5 linked regions of the Homo sapiens genome follow. Changing the gene in region 2 together with the main gene of any one other region gives a genetic interaction. Each region holds a gene or a part of one and is shown on either strand. Other genes may lie near its edges.

Evidence for each region.
Region 1: changes in NUP43 (region 2) and RTF1 together harm fitness more than expected from each alone (negative genetic interaction), as found in Homo sapiens cells (one large-scale study listed by BioGRID).
Region 3: changes in NUP43 (region 2) and CDCA8 together harm fitness less than expected from each alone (positive genetic interaction), as found in Homo sapiens cells (one large-scale study listed by BioGRID).
Region 4: changes in NUP43 (region 2) and MCM3AP together harm fitness more than expected from each alone (negative genetic interaction), as found in Homo sapiens cells (one large-scale study listed by BioGRID).
Region 5: changes in NUP43 (region 2) and SEH1L together harm fitness more than expected from each alone (negative genetic interaction), as found in Homo sapiens cells (one large-scale study listed by BioGRID).

The regions. Positions count from the first base shown.
Region 1 is NC_000015.10:41,464,221-41,470,183, reverse strand, and holds part of RTF1 (RNA polymerase-associated protein RTF1 homolog), read right to left. Parts: intron 5,414-5,963; coding exon 5,299-5,413; intron 4,044-5,298; coding exon 3,932-4,043; intron 1-3,931. UniProt on the Homo sapiens protein: Component of the PAF1 complex (PAF1C) which has multiple functions during transcription by RNA polymerase II and is implicated in regulation of development and maintenance of embryonic stem cell pluripotency.
Region 2 is NC_000006.12:149,725,441-149,730,760, forward strand, and holds part of NUP43 (nucleoporin Nup43), read right to left. Parts: coding exon of another isoform or gene 5,193-5,320; exon of another isoform or gene 4,079-5,192; coding exon of another isoform or gene 4,050-4,078; exon of another isoform or gene 3,121-4,049; coding exon of another isoform or gene 3,080-3,120; exon of another isoform or gene 3,040-3,079; intron 3,039-3,039; coding exon of another isoform or gene 2,950-3,038; exon of another isoform or gene 1,759-2,949; coding exon 1,529-1,758; 3' UTR 1-1,528. UniProt on the Homo sapiens protein: Component of the Nup107-160 subcomplex of the nuclear pore complex (NPC). The Nup107-160 subcomplex is required for the assembly of a functional NPC.
Region 3 is NC_000001.11:37,706,016-37,711,978, forward strand, and holds the end of CDCA8 (borealin), read left to right. Parts: intron 1-962; coding exon 963-1,049; intron 1,050-2,306; coding exon 2,307-2,351; 3' UTR 2,352-3,704; downstream 3,705-5,963.
Region 4 is NC_000021.9:46,270,785-46,276,747, forward strand, and holds part of MCM3AP (germinal-center associated nuclear protein), read right to left. Parts: intron 4,542-5,963; coding exon 4,402-4,541; intron 2,802-4,401; coding exon 2,604-2,801; intron 2,046-2,603; coding exon 1,777-2,045; intron 1-1,776.
Region 5 is NC_000018.10:12,956,485-12,962,447, forward strand, and holds part of SEH1L (nucleoporin SEH1), read left to right. Parts: intron 1-5,963. UniProt on the Homo sapiens protein: Component of the Nup107-160 subcomplex of the nuclear pore complex (NPC). The Nup107-160 subcomplex is required for the assembly of a functional NPC.

The sequences.
Region 1 (5,963 bases), on a different chromosome or scaffold from region 2:
AAATGGAAGAGGACTCAAATACACAGCTCCGTCCTCTCTAGACTGGATTGTGCTAACTTGGGGTATATACAGAAATGAGTTAAAACACAGAGTTAAAATTATTCAGGTGCCAAATGTCAGGCCCCAGCAGATGAAAAAAGGGCTGGAAGATTGATACTAGGTGGGCAGAAAGGGTCACCAACACTACTGACAGTTCTCTTTTATGGCACTCAAGACACTTGACTATGGGGAGGAAAGAGGGGGAAAGACTCATGATGACTTCAGAAGCTTCTGAGGAAAATTTAAAATAGGAGAGTGGCTAAATCACCACTGGTACATCTACCAATGAACTACTATGCAGCTATAAAAAAGGAACGTGGGGACGGGTGCGGTGGCTTACGCCTGTAATCTCAGCACTTTGGGAGGCAGAGGCAGGTGGATCACTTGAGGTCAGGAGTTCGAGACCAGCTTGGTCAACATGGTGAAACTCTGTCTCTACTAAAATACAAAAATTAGCCAGGCATTGTGGCCGGCACCTGTTATCCCAGCTACTTGGGAGGCTGAGGCAGGAGAATCGCTTGAACCCGGGAGGCGGAGGTTGCAGTGAGCCAAGACTGTATACCACTGCACTCCAGCCTGGGCAACAGAGCGAGACTCCATCTCAAAAAAAAAAAAAGGAACGTGGCCAGGCATGGTGACTCATGCCTGTAATCCCAGCACTTTGGGAGGTCGAGGTGGGTAGATCACTTGAGCTCAGGGGTTTGGGACCAGCCTGGGCAACATGGTGAATCTGCATCTCTACCAAAAATACAAAAAACAAACCAGGAGTGGTGGCTAAAAAAAAAAGAGAGAGAAAACTGTGTATAATATGCTACCATTAATCTAAGATGGCAGGTTAATCTGTGTACTTACGATTTAAAAAGAAAAAAGAATAATATAAAAAAATTTTAGGCTGGGAGTGTTGGCTCATGCACTTTGGGAGGCCAAGGCAAGGCGGATCACTTAAGGTCAGGAGTTCAAGACCACCCTGGCCAACATGGCTAAACCCCATCTCTACTAAAAATACAAAACAAAATTAGGTGGTGGTGCACGCATGTAGTCTCAGCTACTCAAGAGGCTGAGGTGGGAGAATCGCTTGAACCCGGGAGGTGAAGGTTGCAATGAGCCGAGATCGCGCCACTGCACTCCAGACTGAGTAACAGAGAGAGATCCTGTCTCAAAAAAGAGAGAGAGAAAAAGATGGATGGAAGGAAGGAAAAATAACTGCAATGGATTAAAACACATAAAGCACGTTAAAAATGATGAGTTCACAAGGATATTCAAAATAAATAAAACCCATCAGTCATCTTTGGAAGTTGCTAAAAACTATCTCTCTCTCTCTCTTTAAAATATTGCAGAAACAGGGTCTCACTATGTTGCCCAGGCTGGTCTTGAATTACACATGTGAGCCACTGTACCTTGCCAGGAACTATCTCATTCTTTCAAAAACTGGTAAACGAAAGGAAAATTAATCAAGCATTTATCTTGCCTTTCCTGTTCAAAATGTGCCTGGGGGGTAACTAAATAGCTGATTAGAAGTTTCTCTTTAGGCCGGGTGCGGTGGCTCACACCTGTAATCCCAGCACTTTGGGAGGCCGAGGCGGGCGGATCACAAGGTCAGGAGATCAAGACCATCCTGGCTAACATGGTGAAACCCCTTCTCTACTAAAAATACAAAAAATTAGCTGGGCGTGGTGGCAGGTGCCTGTAGTCCCAGCTACTCAGGAGGCTGAGGCAGGAGAATGGTGTGAACCCAGGAGGCGGAGCTTGCAGTGAGCCGAGATCGCGCCACTGCACTCCAACCTGGGCGACAGAGCGAGACTCCGTCTCAAAAAAAAAAGGTTTCTCTTTATAGAAGCAGGCTAGATAATGAATGAGGAAAGAATGACAGATTCGAAATATCACCATTTTGCAACTCCTAATGAATTAAATTATCTAGGTAATGACCATCAGTGGCTACTAGGACAGAACACGTTATTATTTCTTTTTCTTTTTTTTTGAGACAGAGTCTCACTCTTGTTGCCCAGGCTGGAGTGCAATGGTAGGATCTTGGCTCACTGCAACCTCCACCTCCCGGGTTCAAGTGATTTTCAGTGCCTCAGCCCCACAAGTAGCTGGGATTACAGGCATGTGCTACCACGCCTGACTAATTTTTGTACTTTTAGTAGAGACGGGATTTCACTCTGTTGGCCAGGCTGGTCTCCAACTCCAGACCTCACGTGATCTGCCTGCTCTGACCTCACAAAGTGCTGGGATTACAGGTGTGAGCCACCGTGCCTGGCCTGGCTAATTTTATTATTTTTAGTAGAGATGGGCTTGCACCATGTTGGCCAGGCCGGTCTTGAACTCCTGGCCTCAAGCAATCCTCCAGCCTCAGCCTCCCGAAGTGCTGGGATTACAAGCGTGAGCCACTACACTCAGCCCCACATTATCTTTTGTTGTTTTTTTTTTAAGATTGAGTCTCACTCTGTTGTCCAGGCTGGAGCGCAGTGGCGGAATCTCAGCTCACTGCAACCTCCGTCTCCCGGGTTCAAGGGATTCTCCTGCCTCAGCCTCCTGAGGAGCTGGGATTACAGGCATGCACAACCATGGCCAGCTAATTTTTGTATTTTTTGTAGAGATGGGGTTTCACCATGTTTGCCAGGCTGGTCTCAAGCTCCTGACCTCAGGTGATCCGCCCACCTTGGCCTCCCAAAGTGCTAGGATTACAATTGTGAGGCACCACGACCGGCCCCCACAGTATCCTTTCTAATTCTTCACCCATCTCTATACCCATGTCCTTTGCTATATGCCTTAGTCATTCTTCCCGGCCCCATAGTGACACTATGCCAATTCCAAGTCTAGGCCCTAAGAGGCATGTGTGTCTTTGCTTGCCCCTTTTATACTTCTGTCATCACCATATAAAAGTGCTCGGGGTTTACTGGCCCAGGGAGGAAGAGAGAGGTAGAACAGACCTGGCTACCACCTATAGCTTGGAGATAATTCCAGCTGAACTCATGCCATCAGGAGGGTGAATTGCAGTTGAACTTCAGATGCATGAGCAGAACAGGGGTTAGTTTGTTACTTCACATTATTGTGGTAAGAGCTAACTGACAGGATTGTTAACATCACAAACTGAGAGACAGTCAGATATCATGTGTCTCCTGATGGAAATACATACCACTACCTAAAAATCAGCCTTCCCCAAGAACAAGCAACAATGACAACAACAGAACAAACCCAAATCTGACCAATTCTGTAGCTCTAACTAACCATTTACAGGAAACCCAAGGGACCAGAAACACATTCAACAACAAAAACGAGATGTAGTCAGCAATGTGAGAAACCAGAAGACAAATGACCCAGTTCCTTCAGCAAATAACGCTGCAAGGCAGGGCAAAGAGATGGGGAAGAAAACATACAGATTAAATGCCTTAAGGGACGTATTAACAGATCACAATGTATGGACTTTAAGATCCTGATTCAAGTGGTCTTGTTTTTTAAATTACAAAACAAATAGAAATGTTTTTAAAATCTTGTTTTTTAAATTACAAAACAAATAGAAAAATTTGAACACTGACTAGATATTTGACAAAGAGTTCATTGTTATTTCTAGGTGTAATAATGGTATTATAGTTAGGTTTAAAACAAAAGTACTTATCTTTTAGAGGAACATACTGAAATATTTATGGTTAAAATATAATAATGCTGGTATTTGCTTTAAAATAATCTGATGAAAGGATTATAGATTTAACAAGACTGGCCAAGAGCTGACTGCTGTGGCTGGATGATGGGTTTGTGGATGTTTATACTATTCTGGGTATGTGCTGGAATTTTATATGAGAAAGATATAACAAGAGGGCAAAATGAAAATGGACACCAGGAAGTCAAATCATATAAAGACACAAGTAGCCATTATATTTCCCTCGCTTACCTGTTCTGTTCTTTCGTTTTTCTCGCTCTGCTTTTAGCTCCTCCATGGCTTGAGATTTCTTGTCTAGTTTCTCATCCCGCTTGGAACGCCGTTCCTTGTTGTGGGATGTTACCTAGGAAGGGAAGGATATATAGAATGGCCCTTTTTACCAACAGCTGATAAGATTCTCTAAACCTACTTAATGCATTTAGTCCTCCAACATCAATCTATATGGGCTGCAAAAACTTAGAGCTTTTATGTAAGGGGAGAGAGCATCCTCTTGTGGACAAAGAGGATAGCGCAGTAAAGTAAGCCCTGTCTAAAATGCCTATTCCAAGTTCAAGAATTATCCGAATAAACTCTTTCTGGAAGAACACACTACAACACAGCTAATGTTGGGATTACAGGCATAAGCCACTACACTCAGCCCCACATTATCTTTTTTTGTTGTTTTTCTGAGATGGAGTCTCATTTATGATAAATACAGAGATTATTTTCCCAGCTATATTTATACCAAGTAAAGGATGATATACATCTAAGTAAACATCATAAGCATCTGGCTACCTAGGACAGGTTGTTTACCAACTTTTCCTTAAGGGATGGTCACTCACTAGTGGGCTGCTTTTTTTTTTTAAAACAGAGCCTCGCTCTTCTGCCCAGGCTGGAGGGCCATGGCATGATCTCAGCTCACTGCAACCTCCGCTTCTGAGGTTCAAGCAATTCTTGTGCCTCAGCCCCCCGAGTAGCTGGGATTAAAGGCATAAGCCACCACGCCAGGCTAATTTTTGTATTTTTAGTAGAGACAGGATTTCGCCACGTTGGCCAGGCTGGTCTCAAACTCCTGGCCTTGAGTGATCTGTCTGCCTCGGCCTCTCAAAGTGCTGGGATTACACATGTGAGTCACTGCAGTTGAGGGCTGCTTTTTAAATGCAGACTTCAGTGAAAGCCGGGCACGGTAGCATATGCCTGTAGTCTCAGCAACTCAGGAGGACTGCTTGAGACTAGGAGTTTGAGGCTTCAGTGTGTTATGACTGTGCCAGTGAATAGCCACTGTATTCTAGCCCGGGCAACATAATGAGACCAGGGAAAGGGAAGAGGAAGGGAAGGAGGAAGGGAAGGGGGAAGGAGGAAGGGAGGGGAAGAAAAGGGAAAAAGAAAGAAGAAAGAAAAAAGAAAAGGAAAAAGGAAAGCAAAGGAAAAAGTGCTAAGGATTTAACAGCACAGCTAATGGTGATATGTCCAGAGATTAATGAAACCATGTCACAAGTCTTATAAACTTAGGCTGATTAATATAAATCCACCTTTTACACACACACACACACACACACACACACACACACTCAAAACAGGTTTATTCTTTGGACAATGAGGAACACTGAATCTCCTACCTGAGATTCTTGAATCTGTGTCAGTTTTTTCTTTTCTTGCTCCTCTTCTTGCTTTTTCTTCTTTTCTTTCTTTTCTTTCTTTTTGGCTGTTTTTAGTTTTTTCTTGATTTCAAATCTGGTTAAAAGATATTTGGTTTTTAAGTAGCAATGAAATGTATATAAAAACTGATTTCTATTAGATAGGAGAAAGGAACTAAGGGAAAGGAGCTAATAGATATTTTGGCTTTCCTGCAAGAAACTCTGGTGTACCTTTTAAGTACATTAAAAATATTTAATATGTTAATTACAACAAAATATAAAATATTTGATAGCATTAAGTTGGAATATGTTTAAAATGAGAGACTACGGGCCAGGCACAGGGGCTCACACCTGTAATCCCAGCATTTTGGGAGGCCGAGGCGGGGGGATCAAGAGATCGAGACCATCCTGGCCAACATGGTGAAACCCCGTCTCTACTAAAAATACAAAAATTAGCTGGGCATGGTGGCGCACACTTGTAGTCCCAGCTACTTGGGAGGCTGAGGCAGGAGAATCGCTTTAATCCGGGAGGGAGGTTGCAATGAGCCAAGATCGCGCCACTGCACTCCAGCCTAGCGACAGAGCAAGAATCCGTTTCAAAAAAAAAAAAAGAGAGAGAAAGAGAACATATATAGGGTATTGCTGTA
Region 2 (5,320 bases):
TAGCTGGGTGTGGTGGTGAGCACCTGTAATCCCAGCTACTCGGGAGGCTGAGGCAGGAGAATTGCTTGAACCTAAGAGACGGAGGTTGCAGTGAGCTGAGATCATGCCATTTCACTCCAGCCTCAGCAACAAGAGCAAAACTCCATCTCAAAAAATATATATATTTATTAGGACAGAAAAGCAAAACCTTACCATAATTCCATAACTATGATTATTGGAATTACAAAGTAAATGAACACTTCAATTGTCTAATAGCAGTGATTTGTCATTAAGGTCTCAGGTCAATAATACATTTAAAATCTAACAAAGTTTGGAAAGATAGTATCATTAAATTATCTTAAAACACTACATTAGTTCATTATTATCCCTGCAGACAAGGATAAAGATGGTTGGTAACACTATAGGTGGCTAAAACAAAGTAAAAGGATCAAAATGGCAAAATTCTTTACTCTGATCATATCATTTGATTAATCACACTTTTATCTATCACATTTTTAGTTTGGAAATAGTTTGCTTATCAATATAGAATTCTACTTTATTGCACAATGTCCAGTTTGGCAACTTTCAGCTATGCTGTGAAGCTAAACAAAAGCAAAGTTGGGTCTAACAAGCTGAAAGAGTTCTGCTCAAAAACCTATTCTGAAAAAGGAACTTGTCAAAACATTTTCACCTTAAAAAAATTTCAGGCCGGGTGCAGTGGCTCACACCTGTAATCACAGCACTTTGGGAGGTCGAGGCGGGTGGATCATGAGGTCAAGAGATCGAGACCATCCTGGCCAACATGGTGAAACTCTGTCTCTACTAAAATTACAAAAATTAGCTGGGCGTGGTGGCGCACACCTGTAGTTCCAGCTACTCAGGAGACTGAGGCAGGAGAATTGCTTGAACCTGGGAGGTGGAGGTTGCAGTGAGCCGAGATTGCACCACCGCACTCCAGCAGAGCAAGACTCTGCCTCAAAAAAAAAAAAAAAAAAAAATTGAACACAGCTACACATCTTTGTCATTTTTGCTCTACTCAATTCTTTCTGAAAAAGTTTATTATTATTAAGGAAATAAAGTGTGGAAGGATCATAGGAAATACTTGCAATAAAAAGAATAATCATTAACATTGGCAACTGCCACTAGGAAGGTGTATATGCCACATACTACTGATAAAAATTGTAGGAACCCATTGGTAGTTCCCATAACCACCATTGATGTGTTAATTCCCACAACATCAAAAATAAAGAATTAGTTCCACAAGCTGTCTGTCAATAATACTCTGAAGGCAACCTATTCATCAGCACCAGAATCCCACTGATTTTCTTCCACATGTTCACAATCTTTTGCCATCAGTCATCTATCGGATTCTACAACTGTTTGGGAGTGTCAGGCTAACAAAAGTCAAAACTGGGCATTGACATTAATGGTAGTTTACTGATGTTTCCCCTGCAAATCTCGTATTTTCTGATACTAAAATTTTGCACAGAAGTTGGATTTCAAAAGGCTAATTGCATGTTCTATCTGAAATCTTATAATTATAGTACTTCTACGAAAAAAGATGTCTAGTAACATAAATTGCTTCTGCATCGGTTCCACAAACAAGACAAGGACCTAAAACATCCAAAGTGTTCACAGACAGAGACCTACTGGGAAGTAAGCTTGTGATTTCAATTCGGTCTTTTGCAGGATCAGTGCTGAGCCAGGAGCTAATGACAGACTGGTGAACATTAGCTTGGTTACTAATGCTATGAGACAAAAAAGTACTGCTTCTTCCTCCTGGGAGAAAAAAAGAAAAGGAAGAAATCTTTCAAGATGATTTTTATATTAGTAAACATTCAAACTTCTACTGATATTTAGAAAGGTGATGATATCAATGTGTTTAATTCTCAGAATAATAGGCTAATAATTCCATTATTATACATCACCACTTTGGACCAAAGGCTTATTCAGTGATATTAAATATTCAAATTTCCATGGGATAATATGGATACCAAACTCGAAGTCTTCAGGAAAAGCAGGTGATTTCAACTGACTTTCTGTTCATCTTTTAATGGAAAGTCTCAGAAAGGTAGCAAAACGGCCAGCATACAAGTTGAATAAGGAAAGAAAAAAAAGAAACCAAAAATGTAGGTAATACATGGAAATATAAACTCTTGGGTAATAACAAAATAAAATGATCATGAGAAAGAATTTCTAGACATATTTCTAGATGAACATTTCTAGAAATATATTTCTAAATATATATTTGTTACTATATTTCTTAAAATATAATCGCCTTACCTCAAATCTTTCATTCTTATGCTTTTTAGATAAATGTTCTTACAAGCAGATTAGAACACTACTAGATTATAAGGTTTTATCTCTAACAGCGCACTGTACTTACTATAGAATAAAGTGAGGCAGAGGCAGTATATTTCAATTTTAGTCATTATTCGCAACTTACTTTCCTCTCAACTTGCTGTCATATCAAATAAGTACAAATTTAATTCACTCAACAAATGACTGAGTACCTACTATGTGCCAGGCTCTGTGCTAAGTGCTCTGTGCCAAGTCCCTATGTCTTGAAGCTTAAAGATTAGTACATTTAAAATCTTGCTGATCCTTTAAAATATGGCTGAACTTCCTTCTCTAAGAAAACTTTGAAGACAACCTCTACTTCATGTTTTTCTCTTTCCTTGAACCCTCAGCACTTGTATGTACCATTAATTTACTACTTTATAACAATTCTTATATCCTAATTGAACTATCCATGCCTCTGTCCATGACTAAATATGTCTTAAGAGCAGGATGCATATTTTATATGTTTTACTTTTTCACAGTGTCTAATACTGTGCCTTGCAATAGTAGACACAGAATAAAGTTTTATTTCCAGTCTAACCAAGGTTCCTTAAAAGTAAACTTGCAAGTTCAAGACTGTGCGGTTAGGGGAGGAAGGAAGTAAAAACGAAGTACATACTTAGTTAATCCTTAGATGAAACTGTTTGTTTCTCTGTAGATGAAGTTATAGCATGGACATGCATGCATGCTCCACACATGCTCTCCGCTCCAGAATTTTTCTGAAGAAGTTTTAGAATTTTTTTCCCCTTAGTTTTTCTGTTTATCTTTTACTGCCCCTACATTTTACATTGCTCTTGGACGCTGTAAAGATTAACACATTATTCAAGCCACTGTGATAAGACTCCTTCCTCATCTCCCTGTTTTCCACTTTTCTCCTCCCCCTCCCATAAGTCTAAAGTCCTTATCATGGGCTACAAAGTCCCAGGGCTCCTCAGCCACCAGTCCTTATCTCCCACCACTGTACCCTGCTGCCTGAGCTCCAACCGTGGTGTCCTTGCAGTTCTCTGCCTGTCTCAGGCCCTCAGCATTTGCTGTTTCCTCTGCCTGGAATGCTTTCATGTCACTTATGCCTTCACTTCTCTTAAGTCTCTGCTCAAATGTTCCTTCTGCCAAGTGGCCTCTTCTGACTCTCACTAGAGTAGCTCCCCTCACCCCTGTCTTTATTCTTTATCCTCCTACTCTGCTGTATTCTTCTTCATGGTAATTAGCAGTGTATTTGGCCATGTTATTTTCCTTTTTCTTTTTTTTTGAGATGGAGTCTTGCTCTGTTGCCCAGGCTGGAGTGCAGTGGCGTGACCTTGGCTCACTGCAACCTCCAACTCCCGGGTTCAAGCAATTCTCCTGCCTCAGCCTCCAGAGTAGCTGGGATTACAGGCACCCACCACCACGTTCAGCTAATTTTTGTATTTTTAGTAGACACAGGGTTTCACCATGTTGGACCAGGCTGGTCTTGAACTCCTGGCCTCAGGTCATCTGCCCACCTCGGCCTCCCAAATTGCTGGGATTACAGGTGTGAGCCACCGCGCCCGGCCTCCTTTTCCACTTTGCTGTGCTCCACTATATACTGTAGGAGGTAGAAGTTGGTAAACTCCACTTTCCAGGCTGCTTTGCCATCTGCCATCCAGATGGGCCTTGCCAATAGCAGGTATTAATGGTGGGTGACTGGAAGGCGGAAGGGAGAAGCAGCTCCTTCCTGCTCCAGGTTTCTGGCAACAACACTGGTGGTAGTTTCAGCCTGGTTGAGGGAGCGCCTTTTCTCCTAATTCAGAACAAACTTTTACAGCATTTTCAACAGTCAAGTAGCAGGGGTACTAACAATTACTATTTCTGGGTTTTCCCTTTTCTTCCTATTTGTTCTCCCAGCACCCCTCCTATTACCTTTTGTTTTCCCAGCCCTTCTAACACATGTGAGACCAATTCCTTCTACATCTAAGGTAGTTTCTGACATTCTAATTGGACTCTTACTGATACATTATCTATTTTTTTAACTATTAGAATATTTGCTCTATGCGTTTCGACATTTCGTTCTGCTCACTGTTACACGTCCTAACACCTAGAAGAATGCCTACCACATGGTAGGCATTCAGTAAATATTTCTGAATAAATGAATAAGCAAAAGAACTTTGGAGCCACAGACAAACCCTCAAAAACAGGAAACTTGGAAAATGCAAAAACACATAAACCCCGATTACAAGTGCATGGTCTTTGGCTGACCATAACCTACAACTGACTGTAATGAGGAAAGCACGCCCTTTTTTTTTTTTTTTGAGACGGAGTTTCGCTTTTGCTATCCAGGCTGGAGTGCAATGGTGCAATCTCGGCTCGCTGAAACCTCTGTCTCCTGGGTAAAAGCAATTCTCCTGCCTCAGCCTCCTGAATAGCTAGGATTACAGGCATGAGCCACCACACCCGGCTAATTTTGTATTTTTAGTAGAGACGGGGTTTCTCCATGTTGGTCAGGCTGGTCTCGAACTCCCAAACTCAGGTGATCCACCTGCCTTGGCCTCCCAAAGTGCTGGGATTACAGGCATGAGCCACCACACCCGGCCTGAGATCAGGCCATTTAACCAGTACCCTCAGTTACATCAAATATCAACTTTTTTCTTGCCATTCACACAAACTTGGCAATGCAATATGAAAGATTTGCCACTGTCTATGCTATGGCATGAGGGTCCAGGTTAATGGCACTCACAAAGGAGAACCTTGGCTGTCTCAAGTGAGCCAGCTTACAGCATTTCTAGCCATCAGCCATACAGTAGTAAGTAACTTGACAGTCAGATTTCAAGCCCTGTGATACTCAAATTTACTCTGAGGCAAGAGAATAAAAATGTTTTGCCATTAAGTAAAAAATACGAGGATGTCTAATTTGGTATTTAAAAGTATAAAATGGCTGGGTACAGCCAGCTCATGCTTATAATTGCAATACCTCGGGAGGCCCAGGCAGGAAGATTGCTTGAGCTCAGGAGTTTGAGAGCAGCCTGGGCAGCATAGTGAGAGCTCA
Region 3 (5,963 bases), on a different chromosome or scaffold from region 2:
GGCCAGGATGGTCTCGATTGCTTGACCTCGTGATCCGCCCTCCTCGGCGTCCCAAAGTGCTGGGATTACAGGCATGAGCCACCGTGCCCACCTTTTTTTTTTTTTTTTTTGAGATGGAGTCTCACTCTGTCGCCCAGCCTGGAGTGCAGTGGCACGATCTCAGCTCACTGCAACCTCTGCCTCCCAGGTTCAAGTGATTCTCCTGCCTCAGCCTCCTGAGTAACTGGGACTACAGGCACATGCCACCACACCCGGCTAATTTTTGTATTTTTAGTAGAGATGGTGTTTCACCATATTGGTCAAGCTGGTCTCAAACTCCTGACCTCAGGTGATCCACACACCTCAGCCTCCCAAGGTGCTGGGATTACAGGTGCAAGCCACCACACCCGGCCTCCATCTGTTCATCAACTAACATTTGCCCATCCGATTGTAGTAGGCCCAAGAAGTAGACATGGGGCCTGCCCTTAGAAAGCAGCTCAGTGGTCAAGATGGGTTTGCAATCATGGTACCTGTGATATGCGCAATAATAGAGATGTTAAAGGGTGGTGCAGAGGAGGGCACCACCGAGGTATGCGCTTAGTCTAGAACCCGGACCATGAGCTGTGCCTTCAGCTTTGTATAACTTAAGGGATTCTGAAGCAAGCTGAGCTCAGTGTCTCTGGGCTGCATGGAGCGAGTTGCTGACCTCAGCCCCTGTGAGGGGAGGACGGTTTGTTTCAGACATACTCTGCAGGGCATTTCTTAGATGATGTGCGTGCCTTTTGTGCCCAGGTAATCCAGCCTCCACCCTAGTGATAGTGCTGATGAAGTCATTGTCTCCTTAGAGCTAATATCCTTCCTGCCTGTCTTGCCACTTCTCCATCCCAGCCATTCCCCACCACTAAGTGCAGGATATCAGGGGAACCTAGGGGTTCCGGCCCTAAGGGCCATGGCCAGTTTAACCCACTCCCCTTTCTATTCAGAGCCTGCGATTATTGGCCAGTGACTTGCAGAGGCACAGTATTGCCCAGCTGGATCCAGAGGCCTTGGGAAACATTAAGAAGCTCTCCGTAAGTCTCATATTCATCTCCACACATAGGATGCCTCCAGTAGCTTTCTTGGGCTACCTTTATTTAGGATTGTCTTTTGGGCCTGGGCTAATACTTTCTACTTAAATTTGTGTTGTCTTCCTTCCCCCAAGAGATTTTGACTCTTACCCTACTTAGATAGCAGCAGTTCTGTTCCTCAGTTGATGTTGAGTTTTGTTCAATCCCAGGGTGCCTGCCACAGAAGTTCCACTGCAAAATCAAAATTCTGCCTCATTCAGGCAGTTAGTGCTAGGGGTATGTTAGGTCACTATTGGCCACCAGAAAGTGAAACCTAGAGTAGCTCAAGAATGAGGGTCGGGGCTTGTTATCAGGAATCTTACAGAATCAAAGAGCGAGCTGAACGGCCAAGCCTCTGGAGTGGTGGGGCCCATCAGCTGGGGCCTGTGTGCTCATTTCTCTCACACATCTTCATTCCTCCCTCAGCAGATAACCTTCTCCACAGGCTCCAGGTTCTGTGCTTACTTAACATTGTTTTGCATGTGGCTTTGAGTAACCACACCTCCAATCCCAACTTTATTGCTCTATTGCCCAATTGTTCAATTTCTTGTCTTGGTTTAAATTCTGAAGAGGGCCAGGCACAGTGGCACACACCTGTAATCCCTGCAGCTCAGGAGGCTCAGGTGAGAGAAATTGTTTGAGCCCATGAGTTCAAGGCTGCAGTGACCCATGATCGTGCTGCTGCACTCCAGCCTGGGTGACAGAGAAAGACCTCAGCTCTAAAAATAAAGTAAATTATCAATTTAATTTAACTGAAGAATGTAATGGCTCCGCCAGGGATGAACCTCCTTGGTCTGGTCAGCCATCATCTTGGGTGGTGGATGAAGCACTTAGTGTAAACATGGCAACCTTACCCTCATCCTTCTGTGGGGTCTGAAGGGTACATCCAAGGAAGGGGACAAGGCGGGGCTGGTTTCCTAAACCTGTCTTTCTGAACATAGGCCCAGTGCTGAGATCCCACACACACCTAGCCACCCAAATCTTGTGACTGTCATCCTCTAGCTAGATCTATTGCAATGTTCTTCTCAAATCTATGATACCTTTACTGTCTCACTTGAGTTGTTATTTTACTCCCTTGTTCAGATGAGAAACAGGTTCAGAAAGGTGAATTCATGTGTGATACAGATAGAGAATGGAGGGGCTCAGGCTGACTGTGGGAGGCCAAGGGGCAAGCCTGCCAAGTGACATCTTCTACAATGACCTCTCTCCTTTTCTTTTTAGAACCGTCTCGCCCAAATCTGCAGCAGCATACGGACCCACAAATGAGACACCAAAGTTGACAGGATGGACTTTTAATGGGCACTTCTGGGACCCTGAAGAGACTTCTTCCCTTCAGGCTTATTGTTTGAGTGTGAAGTTCCAGAGCAAGGAGCCATGTTCCTCTAAGGGAATTCAGGAATTCAGACGTGCTAGTCCCACACCAGTTAGGTAGAGCTGTCTGTTCACCCTCCCATCCCAGCTGATCCCAGTCACTGCTTGCTGGGGCCATGCCATGGAAGCTTCCCATCAGTCTCCCAGCTGAATCCTCCCTGCTCTCTGAGCTGCTGCCTTTTGCCTCCTGCAACTCAACATCCTCTTCACCCTGCCCTGCCTGCAGTTGAGGGGGCGAAGAAGAACCCTGTGTTCTCAGGAAGACTGCCTCCACCACCGCTACCCAGAGAACCTCTGCATCTGGCATTTCTGCTCTCTATGCTTGAGACCGGGAGGTTTAGGCTCAGATAAGTGAGCTCTGGGCCATGAGAGGGTAGGTCCAGAAGGTGGGGGGAACTGTACAGATCAGCAGAGCAGGACAGTTGGCAGCAGTGACCTCAGTAGGGAACATGTCCGTCTACCCTCTCGCACTCATGACACCTCCCCCTACCAGCCCTCCTCTTCCTCCTCCTCCTCCTCCTGTGGGAGGTGGTCAGTGGGACTTAGGGATCTTTCACCTGCTGTGCCCAGTAGTTCTGAAGTCTGCTTGTGGAGCAGTGTTTTATGTTTATCCCTGTTTACTGAAGACCAAATACTGGTTTGGAGACAACTTCCATGTCTTGCTCTTCTACCTCCCTAGTTAGTGGAAATTTGGATAAGGGAACTGTAGGGCCCAGATTCTGGAGGTTTTATGTCATTGGCCACAGAATAACTGTCTCTAAGCTATCCATGGTCCAGTGGTCCCTGCCAAGTCTGTAGACTTCAGAGAGCACTTCTCTCTTATGGGGTTCATGGGAACAGGGGTGGGTGTGACTTGCTTGGTGGCCTCATTCCATGTGTGCCTGTGCCTGGGGCATGGACTTTGTTAAGCAGAGTCAGCAGTGAGGTCCTCATTCTCCAGCCAGCCTCTCTGCCCTGGAGAATCATGTGCTATGTTCTAAGAATTTGAGAACTAGAGTCCTCATCCCCAGGCTTGAAGGCACATGGCTTTCTCATGTAGGGCTCTCTGTGGTATTTGTTATTATTTTGCAACAAGACCATTTTAGTAAAACAGTCCTGTTCAAGTTGTATTCTTTTAAGTTCTTTTATTCTCCTTTCCCTGAGATTTTTGTATATATTGTTCTGAGTAATGGTATCTTTGAGCTGATTGTTCTAATCAGAGCTGGTACCTACTTTCAATAAATTCTGGTTTTGTGTTTTCTTTTGTAATCACTGTTCATCCTGCCTGTCCTCTCCAAGCTGTGCTCTGTGGACTAGGGAGACAGCAATTGTGTGGGAGTCTTTGCACATCTGCTTTTCTCAGATGTGAAAACCTTTGCTTTGGGCAGATTCATTCTGATATCTGAAAGAGGGGCTTACTACAAGATCCAGAGCATCGGTACCTTCAACCCCCAGCAGAGCGCCCCCAACACCTTCATTCCATGAGCTAGAAATTTGTGTCTGGGAGGACAACACCTAGGGTCTCTGTAATTTCCCAGTATAGTAGACTTTTCTTGGCCAGGAACAAAGCGGGGCAAGAGTAATTCGGTGATCATGAGTCTCACTTCCCAAAGTTTCTGAGGCCCTGGCAGATCTGCCTTCCCGGAACTCTCTAGGCTGAAAATGATCAACCTAGAGCTAATGATGCAAGAGGGTTCTGCCTAAAAGAAGACAACCTGGGGGCATACTTAGCCAGGTTATTGGGTATTGACAATTTATAGACTAGGAATCTTCTGGTAGTGACAGCATTTGGAAGAATGGTTACTCAGTGCAAATAAGCAACCCAGACTATATGTCATCAGGCCTAAAGAGCCTGACACCAAGGAAACACTTAGGATCCAACCTGCTTTACCCAGAACCAGGTTCATCCTGTTTCATTCCATCTGCACCACTGCCTAAATCACCTAGTAGGAAATGCATGTTATGTAGCAGGTGCCTAATTAACACCTGGGACTGAGACATGGCAGTTCTTCATTTCATATAAGGGGCTGGCTTGGAAAGTAAAGAGTTCCCCATCCCAGGATTGATTGATTGATTGATTTTTTGAGACAGAGTTTCGCTCTTATTGCCCAGGCTAGAGTGCAGTGGTGAGATCTCGGCTCACTGCAACCTCCACCTCAGGTTCAAGCAATTCTCCTGCCTCAACCTCCCAAGTAGCTGGGATTACAGGTGCACACCACCACGCCTGGCTAAGTTTTGTACTTTTAGTGGAGACAGGGTTTCGCCATGTTGGCCAGGCTGGTCTCCTGACCTCAGGTGATCCACCCACCTCCACCTCCCAAAGTGCTGGGATTACAGGTATGAGCCACTGTGCCCGGCCCCATTCCAGGATTTTTAAAAAAAATTTTGTTTTTTATCATTTGGTATTTTTGTTGATTTATTTTGTAGAACTTATGTCCCCACCATCCCAGGATTTTTAAGTACAGGCTGAACTATGTCACAGGGCTGGGACAAAGACAACCTAAATCTTACTGCCAGCCCCCAGACATACTTTCATACTCGTTGGGTTGGGTTTGGGTTTTTTTTTTTCCCCAAATTAGTTGCTAACCATTTAAATATCGGGCGATTACACAAAGATTGCTAGCCTCTGAAAATAAGATCAGACAGCACGGGCCAACAGTCAGCTGGAGCTCAGTAGCAGCTTTCCTTGGCCCGCAGAGAATCCTCTACCGGTTCAAAGCAATCCTGATGAGATTACTTCTTCCCTTGATGTTACCTGCCTTATCTCTGTAGGCAATTTAGTTTTTACTGTCTGCTGTGGAGAGAAAGCATAGAACAGTAGGGCTGCCCCAGGTTGAAGGGAGAATGGAGGCCTGGAGTCCATCCCCAGGGCCGCTGAGGCAGTTTTAAGGAACCCCAGAGGTCCAGTCAACAGTAGGTTCATTCTTTGTCCTACAGGGCCCCTGTTATTTCCAAAAGCCCTACTTGGGGCTTCCTGTTGAGAAGATTACAAATGTATTATCTTGTGACGAGTTAGATTATATTACTCATATGAAGAGTTAGCTCATGTGCGTGTGTGACAGGACATCACCTAAGCATTTCTCCAAAGCATCAGACATGCCTTTTACCAGGAGGAATTAATATCCCCAGCCTGACCCATGATAATGAGTTCACATACCAATGCAGGGCTTAGCTCCACGATGTATCCCCAAACCTCTGAAAAACAAAGCATGTCTCAGTGCCTACCTGTGTACACACTCTGGTGGGTCCATTTTCTAATTTTACACAGTATCATAGCTGTTGACCCATACCTAAAATTCAGCATGACATATGTACTCAAAACTTTCATAGTAGATACAATTCCTGTGGCTCCAGAAATGGAAGGACTGAGAGACACTCTTCAGAGAGGATTCAATCAGAATTGGGGGCTACACTGGGCTCCCTGCTAAAAGGGGGGTCTGGAATCCAATTTGCTTTGCCTAAGATGCCATCTCCCTTTAAGGGATTAAACATCTCCTCAGCCCTGTATCATCCCTACCTGCATCACCC
Region 4 (5,963 bases), on a different chromosome or scaffold from region 2:
CAGAGCAAGACCCTGTCTCAAGTAATAATGATACTGGATTTCAACCATACTGAGAAGGAGGGTCTTACTGGTGAAATGTGCCGTTAAATTCATAGTTTACTAACTACCACGCTTGGATTGGTTTGACAAAGGTTTCCTTCAAAACAATAATGAATAGAATAAACAAATTCAAAAAGCAATTTAGGAATCAGTTATCAAAAAGTTACTTTAAAGTAATGCCAATGGACTGTCAGCTGTGCTGGATGGTAAAGTCTAAAAAACAGAAAACTTAACTCTTTTTGTTTAGAAATGAATTGATTTTGACTGAATTATTCGTGATGGAGAACAAATGCTTGTCACGTAGAAAAAGACAATACAGCAATCTTTCATAACCAGTTTAATTTTTTTTTTTTTTGAGACAGAGTACTTGCTCTATCACCCAGGCTGGAGTGCACTGGCACAATCACAGTTCATTGCAGCTTCAACCTCCTGGCCTCAAGCAACCCTCTCATCTCGGCCTCCCAAAGTGCTGTGATAACAGGCCATGGGCCACCACACCTGGGTTTTTTTTTTTTTTTTTTAAGAGATAGGGTCTTGCTTTGTCACCCAGACTGGAGGACAGTGGCATGATCACAGCTTACTGCAGCCTTGACCTCCTGGGCTCAAGGGATCCTCCCACCTCAGCCTCCCCAGTCGCTGGAACTACAGGCACACATCACCACACCTGGTTAATTTTATTTATTTATTCATTTTTGTGGAAGGGTCTCACCATGTTGCCCAGGCTATACAAGGCTTAATTTTAAAATTTAAAATCAGCCGGGCATGGAGACTCTAACTGTAATCCCAGCACTTTGGGAGGCCGAGGCAGGTGGATCACCTGAGGTCAGGAGTTCCGGACAAGCCTGGCCAACATGGTGAAACCCTGTCTCTACTAAAAATACAAAAAAATGAGGCGGGCATGGTGGTATGTGCCTGTAATCCCAGCTACTCAGGAGACTGAGGCAAGAGAATCGCTTGAACCCAGGAGGTGGAGGTTGCAGTGAGCCAAGATCGCACTACTGTACTCCGGCCTGGGCAACAGAGCAGGACTCGGTCTCAAAAATAAAATGAAATAAAAAATTAAAATCAACCACACATCTAGATATTCTGTCACACAGTTCTTGAGGAAAATACAAAGAAAAAAAAAAGAGGTTCACCATTGATAGGGGATTCTTAGAACTAAAGGGGACACTGTCCACCATAAGTCCAGCTTAACCACAAGCAGAGGGTCCACCACAAGCAGAGGGCCAGAGAGCTCGCCAGACTTCGCATGTAAGTGACTAATTATGGATCAGACCAGGGTTTTACATTCATTCATTCTCACTACCCCATTCTTCGCATTTTTGTTTTACATAATTTTTTCCTCTCTTATTCTGAGATCTTTGACAAAACTATCTGGGAACAGGGAACTGCTAACAACCTTGCAGGGCACCTGGAACTCCCTCTCCTGGTTCACTCACCTGTCTCATGAGGAGGATTCCTTCCTCATTTTCTCACTGGTGAGGAGAAACTATTTTCAGAAATGAACATGTGGGGCCTACGTCAGATGTGCTGGTCCCAGGGCACACCCCCATCGCTCTTCCCCCAGCTCAGCTCAGCCGACTGCAAAGCCAGACCAAGGTCCTCTACTATCATCCCAACATCTGCTACCAGACAGAATGCTGCACTATTGGCTACTGCCACTCCTGAAAGCTCTTCTCCTGTTTAAAGCCTGCCTTTTCAGCCACCTTAGGACAACTTTTGGATGTGAAAATTCACCTTAGGATGTCTCCCTTGTTGAGACTGAGCAGAACATTGTAGCCCTGGAACTCCGCTTCGCTGGCACAGAAGACACCCTTGTTTCTCAGGTCCTGGTACATCTCCTTCAGGCTCTGCAGGCACTTGGTCATGTTCTCATTATTGATCTTGGCATCAAAGGAGGACATGGGCTCCTCACACATGAAGTGGGCACAGTGGATGTGAAACCGGGTGCACTTCTCAATCAGGGACACCGTCAGGGGGTCACAGAGGTGCTGCTGCGTGATATCCTGGCCACAGGCGAGGGGGAGGATCACACACACATTCCCATGCAAAGAGGCAACCGTGAGAAGGATCATGCTACGACCTCAATTTCTCACTTTTCAATTTGAAACAAAGCCCATGATGCACATTTTAATAGGACTTTGTAGTGACTTAAATAAAAGTCCTGGGGTTTGTTTTTTTTTTTGAGACAGAAGCCAGGCTGGAGTGCAGTGGTGTCATCTTGGCTCACCACAACCTCCGCCTCCCAGGTTCAAGCAATTCTGCTTCAGCCGCTCGAGTAGCTGGGACTACAGGCGTGTGCCACCACGCCAAGCTAATTTTTGTATTTTCAGTAGAGATGGGGTTTAACCATGTTGGCCAGGCTGGTCTCAAACTCCTGACCTCAGGTGATCCACCCACCTCGGCCTCCCAGAGTGCTGGGATTACAGGCCTGAGCCACTGCACCTGGCCCACAAAAGTACATTTTTGTTACAGATAAAATATATAACAGAGTAATAAAAATATCAGTTTGACTTTGGAATTTGCGTGGATTTTTTAGCATCCAGGTTGGAGGCAGCCAATACCTTCCGTATGCCACGCGTGCGGTTCCACACGAAGTCATACCAATCCCGCAGGCTGCCCTCCTTCTGGTCCATGATCTGGGTCACCAGGTAGTCCATGGTCCTGCTGAGCACTGGCAAGGGCCGCAGCTCGTGGGGCAGGGGCTCCTCCTGATCCGCCGAGGACCGACTGTACTCTTTCACAGCTGCTGCGTGGTCCACCTAGAGACATGAAGCCGAGACAGGATGCCCATGTGGCATACCTTGGGCCAGGCATAGTTATGCCTGAAAATGAGGGGGAAAATCACATACACACCCACACAAGATCAGTATTTGAGAATATATTTTTTCAACATAAAATTTCTGTTAAAAGGTGACAATCAAAATTCAAAGACAAATAGAGAAATTTGATTTTGGCAAATATGACAAGGAGTTAAGATATGAGTGCGTCATGACAAACAGGAGGAATGTTAAGTGAAGGCACATCTGCTAGCCTCCAAAGCAGAGAGACGGGACAGGGAAGGGCCTCAAGCACTTAAAAGGTCTCAGGCCCGCTCACACACCAGATTAAGTCTACACAGAGCAGAAGTGAAACAGAGACAGGCGGTGAGGACTGCTGAGGACACAGCATCAGGGGCTGGCTGCCCACCTGGGGCCTGGAATTGCATCTCCCACCTCAAAAGGAGGCTGAAGACGTGGCCAAGGGAAGAGGCAGAGATGTACACAGGACAAGGCCCTGGGCATGTGCCTCTCCTGGGGCAGGGGCCCTACAGTGACACGAGTTGCTGGGCTGGGGACCCCGCACCAGGCGAAGGGTGTATAAAGCCACCAGCCAGGAAGAGGAGAAGCCCATAAGCAAAATTCACAAAGTCCAAAAGGATCTATATTGGTGCAGCTTTCTGGGGCAACAATTTGGGAAGATACATGGATAATGTTCAGGAAAGGTCATACCCTCTGATGCAGTAATTTAATTCTTAGGATCTGAAGAAAATAATCTAAATACCAGAGAAGCATTACATACAAGATGCCAAACAATATTACTAATAGAACTAAAAATTTAGAAGCAGCCTATCTACTAATGGTAAAAATGCAGAGTTTTGACAGAGCTACTAATAAAATAATATGCTGTCATTTTTAAATGCTCATAGTTTACCCTAACAAAGGAAAATGTTCATGACATAATTTTAAGTGGAAAAGATACACATAAAATTGTATCTAGAGCATAATCTCGAATGTGTAAAACATAAGCATAGAAACAGACAGGAATAAGATCGTAAAAAGAAAAAAGTTAGCTGGATGTGGTGGCTCACGCCTGTAATCCCAGCACTTTGGGAGGCGGAGGTGGGCAGATGACTTGAGCTTAGGAGTTCGGGACCAGCCTGGGCAACACGGCAAGACCCCATCGCTGCAAAAAATAAAACAGTAACTAGGCGTGGTGGAGCATGCCTGTAATCCCAGCTACTCTGTAAGCTGAGTGAGAGGAGAGGATCACCTGAGCCTGGGAAGTTGAGGCTGTAGTGAGCCATGATTGGACCACTGCACTTCAGCCTAGGTGACAGAGTGAGACCCTGTCTCAAAAAAAAAAAAAAAAAAAAAGAATTTGAAAAACAACTTTATTTAAAATAACTTGCATCTATACCTTATCATGTATAGGTACCAATTACAGAGTGAACATCTCACAATGCAAAACAGCTTAATATGATTGTTAATAGCACAAATACCCAACACTGTCTAAAACAAACACCCAAATCAAGTATGTACAGAAATGACAAAAGCAGCCCCGTCCCCTGCCCACACTCCACGGGGAGATGCAGGGCTCTACCTGGTCAGTCCCTGGGACCACTTCGAACACGCTCAGCTGGCTACGGGTCTCCCGCATGTACCTCTCCTTCTCAGGACACATATCCAGGCAGGTGCCAACAAAAGTCCTCGCTTTGTCCAGATCGGTTCTCTTCACCCGAGCTAAATGACGTCAAGTAAAAGGTAAGAATGTACCACATGGTTAGCACGAACCTACAGAAGTGTATTCTCATAATGATAAAAAGAAATTAAAACTTAAAACACACACACACATTACAAAAGAAAAGAAAAACATTTGTAAAACTCAGAGCCTCAGACAAAGAGGACTTATGGTCTATTATGCCAGGCAGTGGGACATCAAAGCTCCCAAAGACCCGAGTCCACCTCTCTCTAACAGTCACAGACCCTCACTGCAGACTAAGAGAAAGACCCCCGAGTCACCTCTCCAACAGTCACAGACCCTCACTGCAGATAAAAGCAGGGGAGTGTCCTCACTTTCAGCCGGAGTTTTCTAACTCCTGTAATGACCTCAATGACAAAAAATCATGGTGCAGGATGTTTACTAAAAGGATTGACTTGTAACAACTGCAAATATTCAAAATATATCACTATTCTAAAACTGTCTCAGTATTCACCATGACTTTAATATAAGAATCATATAATGGACGTTAACTGGGTTCTTACCTGAATGAGTAAACTGCTATTACACTTAAGTTACAATGTAGCTTGCAAGGAAAAGGAAATGCAACAACTTCACACTCAAAATATATACTTATTGTTTTCATGTTGAAAAATTCTAATACCTGGGCCCGGCCTGGTGGCTCACGCCTGTAATCCCAGCACTTTGGGAGGCCAAGACTGGCAGATCACCTGAGGTCGGGAGTTCGAGACCAGCCTGACCAACATGGAGAAACCCCATCTCTACTAAGAATACAAAAATTAGCCGGGCGTGGTGGCGCATGGCTGTAGTCCCAGCTACTCAGGAGGCTGAGGCAAGACAATCACTTGAACCCGGGAGGCGGACGTTGCAGTGAGCTGACGTTGCGCTCACTCTGTCATGGTACTCCACCATGGGTAACAGAGCAAGACTCCATCTCGAGGAAAAAAAAAAAAAGAAAAATTCTAATACCTAATAATAATTTTTAGAATATAAAAATCACTGTATCAATGATATGATGTTTGATGGCAGCTTTTATTACTATATGTTATTATATTAAGGAAACATGGTGATTATTCAAATTATCCACAGCTTTTAAAAAGAGGAAACTCCTATAGCTGATTTTTTTTTTCTTTTTGAGATGGAGTTTCGCTCTTGCTGCCCAGGCTGGAGTACAATGGCACAATCTCGGCTCACCGCAACCTCAGCCTCCCGGGTTCAAGCCATTCTCCTGCCTCAGCCTCCCAAGTAGCTGGGATTACAGGCATGTGCCACCACGCCCGGCTAATTTTGTCTTTTTAGTAGAGATGGGGTTTTTCCATGTTGGTCAGGCTGGTCTCGAACTCCTGACCTCAGGTGATCCACCAGCCTCGACCTCCTAAAGTGCTGGGATTACAGGCGTGAGCCACCACGCCCAGCATTTTTTT
Region 5 (5,963 bases), on a different chromosome or scaffold from region 2:
ATTATCCCAGGGCTTCTTTTTTCCTAAATACTTATTCATATTTCATAAACACTGGTTTTACATCAGGAAACAGAATATAGTTTTACTTCTATGAGAGAAGAAAACTGATCAACATAACATGTAAATAAAAAGTTAAATTCCAGAATGTTTTAACCTTTAGAAGACATTCTATATTTAGGATTGTAATGCTTCTGAAGTCCAGTTCTTCTGACATTTTACTAATAAAAGAAAAATCTAGCCAGATAAACTTGACTACTTCCAGTGCTGATAGTTGGAGAGTTGCTTCAGAGTTTAGCGTAACCAACCTTTGAAACAAAGATTCTGTAAGTCCACCATTTTACTTGCAAATTCTTTCTACAGAAAATACCCACCTAATAAAATAAATAACATGGCTAACATGGTGAAACCCTGTCTCTACTAAAAATACAAAAAATTAGCCCGGCATGGTGGTGGGTGCCTGTAAGTCCCAGCTACTCTGGAGGCTGAGGCAGGAGAATGGTGTGAACCCGGGAGGCGGAGCTTGCAGTGAGCCGAGATCACGCCACTGCACTCCAGCCTGGGCGACGGAGCGAGACTTGTCTCAAAAAAAAAAAAAATTCTATAAAAATTGTTTCTTTTGTTTTGTGGTTACTTTTGTTTTCTTAGGAAATATACTGTCCTCGGCCGGGTGCGGTGGCTCACGCCTATAATCCCAGCACTTTAGGAGGCCAAAATGGACAGATCACCTGAGGTCAGGAGTTTGAGACCAGCCTGACCAACATGGAGAAACTCCCCCTCTACTAAAAATACAAAAATTAGCTGAGCATGGTGGCACATGCCTGTAATCCCAGCTACTCAGGAGGCTGAGGCAGGAGAATCGCTTGAACCCGGGAGGCGGAGGTTGTGATGAGCAGAGATCGTGCCATTGCACTCCAGCCTGGGGAACAAGAGCGAGACTTCGTCTCAAAAAAAAAAAAATACACTCTCCTTTATCTACATCTGCTTTTATCGCTGTCTTTGCCTTATTGGATGTTTGAATTTGGGCAAGAACATAATATAATCTGTGTGCTGTTGAAGTTCCTCATCTATAAAGTGAAAACATTGAACTAGATTATATTTAAGACTCTTTCCAGCATTTTCATATGAAGGTATTATCATCTGCATGCTTTTTTTCCCCCTTTATGATTTGTTTTTTGTAATAGATAATCATGCACATGGTGTAAAATTCAAAAGAAACAAAAGGAAGTGTGTAGTGGGAGTGTCCTGCTATTACCCCTCACCTGCCCTCCCTAATGGCATGATACTACGTTAGAGCCAGTCACAGCTCATTGCAGTCTCAACCTCCTGGGCTCAAGTGATCCTCCCACCTTAGCCCCACAAGTAGCTGGGATCACAGGCATGCACCACAGGCTGATTTTTTTATTTTGTAGAGATGGGGTTTCACCATGTTGCCCAGGCTGGTCTTGAACTCCTGGACTGAAGCAATCCTCTCACCTCGGCCTCCCAAAGTGCTGTGATTATAGGCGTGAGCCACTACGAGGGCCATGATGCAATTTTTTATTGTGGTAAAATATGTATAACATAATATTCCTCATTTTAACTTTTTTTTTTTTTTTTTTTTTTTTTTTTTTTTTTTTTGAGACAGAGTCTTGTTCTGTCACCCAGGCTGGAGTGCAGTGGTGGGATCTCGGCTTACTGCATTCTCCGCCTCCGGGGTTCAAGCGATTTTCCTGCCTCAGTCTCCTGAGTAGCTGGGACTACAGGCATGTGCCACCATGCCTGGCTAATTTTTTTGTGTTTTTAGAAGAGACAGGGTTTCACCATGTTGGTCAGGCTGGTCACGAACTCCTGATCTCAAATGATTCTCCTGCCTTGGCCTCCTGAAGTGCTGGGATTACAGGCGTGAGCCACCATGCCTGGCCCATTTTAACTATTTGTAAATGGTATAATTCAGTAGAATTAATTACGTTCACAGTGCTGTGTACCCATCACTGTTATCTGTACTCAAAACTGTTCATCACTGCCAACATAAACTCCATATTTTTAAAGAATGCCTCCCCCTTCCTCCTCCCTCTACCCCCTATTCAACTGTCTGTCTATAAATTTGACTAGGTACTGCATGTAAGTGGAATCACAGTATTTGTCCATTTGCAACTGGCTTATTTCACTAAGTAAAATGTTTTCATGGTCTGTCCATTTTGTAGCATATATTAACTTTATTCCTTTTTATGGCTGAGTAATATTCCATTGTGTGTGTATACCACATTTTGTTTATCCATTCATTTGTAGATGGACCCTTGGGTTGTTTCTACTTCGTGGCTATTGTGAATACTGCTACTATGAGCATTGTTGTACAGATAAATGTTTGAGACCGTGCTTTCGATTCTTTTGGAAATATACCTAGGAGTAGAATTGCTGGCTCATATGGTAGTTCTATGTTTCACGTTTTTAGGAACTGTCAGACTTTTCCATAGCAGCTACACCATTTTACATTCCTACCAGCAATGCTCAAGGGTTCCAGTTTTTCCAAATCTTCATCAGCACTTGTTGTGGTGCTATTTATTGTAGCCATCCTAGTGACTGTGTTGTGAAGTGGCATCTCCATTGTGGTTCTGATTTGCATTTCTCTAATAATTACTGATGTTGACCTTATTTTCATGTGCTTATTGGTCAATTGTATGTCTTCCTGGGGAAAATACTATTCATATCCTTTGCCCATTTTTTTAAATTGGGTTTTTTGTTGTTATAGGAGTTCTTTATATATTCTGGATATTAATCCCTTATCTGTTATAGGTTGAGTATTCCTTATCCATAATGCTAGGATCCAGAAATGTTTTGGATTTTGGATTTTGGATTTTGCAATATTTGCATTTATACTTACCAGTTAAGCATTCGCCTACTTATTTATTTACTTAATAGAGTTGCCCAGGCTGGTCTTGAACTCCTGGGTTCAAGCGATCCTCCACCTTGGCCCCCCAGAGTGCTGGGATTACAGGTGTGAGCCACCGTGGCCAGCCCCAGTTAAGCATTCTAAATCCAAAAACTTGAAATTCGGTATGCTTCAATAAGCATTTTCTTTGAGCATCATGCCAGTGCTCAAAAAGTTTTGGAGTTTGGAGCATTTCAGATTTCAGATTTTTGGATTTGATATGCACAACCTGTAAATGATTTGCAAATATTTTCTCCCGTTCTGTGGGTTGCCTTTTTCACTCTTGATGGTTTCCTTTGATGCACGAAATTTTAAAATTTTGAAGTCTAGTTTATCTAAATTTTTTTCTTTTGTTTCCCATGCTTTTGGTGTTATATCCAGGAAAGCATTGCCAAATCCAGTGTCATGAAGACTTTCCCCAATGTTTTCTTCTAAGATTGTTATAGAATCCTCAATTCAGGCTTGTATCCCCAATGTGGAGCTGAGAGCAAACACTGAGTCACCGGTACTTGGAGATAGAGAAAGGTTTATTCGATTTGGCTAAAGCAAGAAGATGGGAGGGCAAGATCTCTCGAATCCATCTAAACAAAAGGAAGCATTGGGTAGATTTTATGTGACTAGATCTAGTAAGGGAGGGGGAGTTTCACAGAATCCAGTGGAAAAGTCTGTGTTTCTTTGGTCTCAGGTAACGCCTTGAGCAACCAGATGTCTGGTTGTTAGCAGCTGGTCACAGTGTCCTTAAAGCCATTCATTTCTTCTGGCAACATTTTTCTTTACATGACGCTGAAGTTATCTTCTCTTGATTGACAAAGAAGCAGTACATCAACAGTTTATCATTATATTGTGGCAACAAGGGATATTCAGCAAAAAGTGAGTGGTTAACATGCGCAAGCAAGCAAGGGCCTGATACAAATTATTTATTTCAGTCATTAAAAAATGTTAGGGTGCTGAAATCTAGTTTTCCCAGCACCATTTCTTGAAAAGACCATTCTTTCCCCTGTTGAATGGTCTTGACACCTTTGTTGAAAATAATGGCTATATATATGGAGGATTGCATTCTGGGCTCTCTTGTGGACATTTATCTGTATGTCTCCTTGTCCTAATAGCACACTGTTTTAATTCCGGTAGCTTTGTAGCTTGAGTGGCTATTCAGACTGTTTTACAGCTCTTCTCAGGGGAGGAGTATGTCTGATTGCCTTTGCACTAGGGCTTCCCTAAGCCAAACAGCTGCTTATGGGGAGGAAGGAATAGAAATTTATAGAATTATAAAAGTTTTTTTGGCGTTAAGTCTGAGGTGTGTCAGTTCAGTATACTATAGATTGGATTTGGGAGTGGTGGCATAAGAAGGACTTTTCTTTGAATTTCAAGATACTTATTTGTATTTAGTTTAGTCATCTTTCATTAATATATTAGCAGTGGCAAATCCATATGGGTCTGCAGCAGCCTCATTTCTTGCCTCTTCAAAAGAAAGAATTCCACCTAGGGGCATAAGGCAGAGTAAGAGACTAAGATAAGTTTTAGAGCCAGAGTGGAAATTTGTTAAAAAATTTTACAGCAGAAATGAAGTAAAATACATTTGGAAGAGGGCCAAGTGGGTGACTTGAGAGAGTCAAATGCATGGTTTGATCTTGGACTTGGGTTGTTACACGTTGGCATGCTTCCCAGGGGTTGCGTCTCTTCTCTGATTCTTCCCTTGGGGTGGGCAGTCCGCATGTGCAGTGGCCCACTAGTGCCTGGGAGGGGCTGCGTGTGCAGTGTGTTTACTGGAGTTGCGCAGATGCTCACTTGAGGCGTTTTTCCCTTAACAGAATGTTCCTAGAAGGTCATAGATCAGTTAAGCTCCACCATTTTTCCTCTTAGTGCACATGCTTGAGCCCAGTCATCCAACTCCTCAGATCTTATCAGGAAGCTGCTGATCACCAGTTTCAGGTGTTTCTATCTGTTGGGAGACTACCTTTCCCTGGCACTGGCTGCAACCAATGATTAGTTTAGAGAGAAAGTTTAACAACTGCCTGATCATCACCTGATGGTTGCTTGACATTCCTGGTGGGGTGGGGTCCTCTGCTGCCCTGCTCATGTCTGACTACCTACTGTAACAAATGCATTTATTTTCTCAACATTTGTGTTTGTATTAATTATTCAGTGGTGTCTGTAGACAAAAGTTTGCTAAGATGTTATCTTTGAAGTTTATGTAATATTATCCTTTTAATGTTGAGACTCTTTAAGAAGGATTTTGGTAACCATAGACAGTAATCTGTTGATTGCTAAACTTTATTGACTTAGTTTTTTTTTGAGACAAAGTCTTGCACTGCCACCCAGCCTGGTGTGCAGTGGCATGATCTCGGCTCAGTGCAGCCTCCGCCGACCACACTCAAGCGATTCTCCTGCCTTAGCCTCTCTAGTAGCTGGGATTGCAGGCGCCCGCCACAATGTCTGGCTAATTTGAATATTTTTAGTAGAGATGGGGTTTCACCATGTTGGACAGGCTGGTCTTGAACTCCTGACCTCAAGTGATCACCCGCCTCAGTCTCCCAAAGTGCTGGGATTACAGGCGTGAGCTACTGCACCTGAGCTTATTGATGTTTTTAGTAAAGTTTCATCTTATCTGTGTGCCAGAAGATAACTTTTAAATGTGATGTTGGAATTTTACAGTGATCATAAAGCTTGCTTTCTACCATTCTTTTGGTCCCTGTTAAAAGCCTTCACTTAAAAGTGCATGGTAGCTGGGTGCAGTGGCTCACACCTGTAATCCTAGCAACTCGGGAGGCTGAGGTGGGAAGATCAGTTGAGGCCAGGAGTTTGAGACCCATCTGGGCAACATAGTGAGACCCCCCCATCTCTATAAAAATAAGAAAAATTAGCTGGGCATGGTGGCAGGTGCCTGTCATCCCAGCTACTGGGAAGGCTGAGGCAAAAGGATCACTTGAGCCATGATCATGGTACTGTACTCCAGCCTGGGTGACAGAGCAAGACCCTGTCCCTAAGAAAAAAAAAAAAATAATAATAATAGTGGTCCAAATGGGATTAACAGAAAATTATTCTTGAGAGAAGAAAT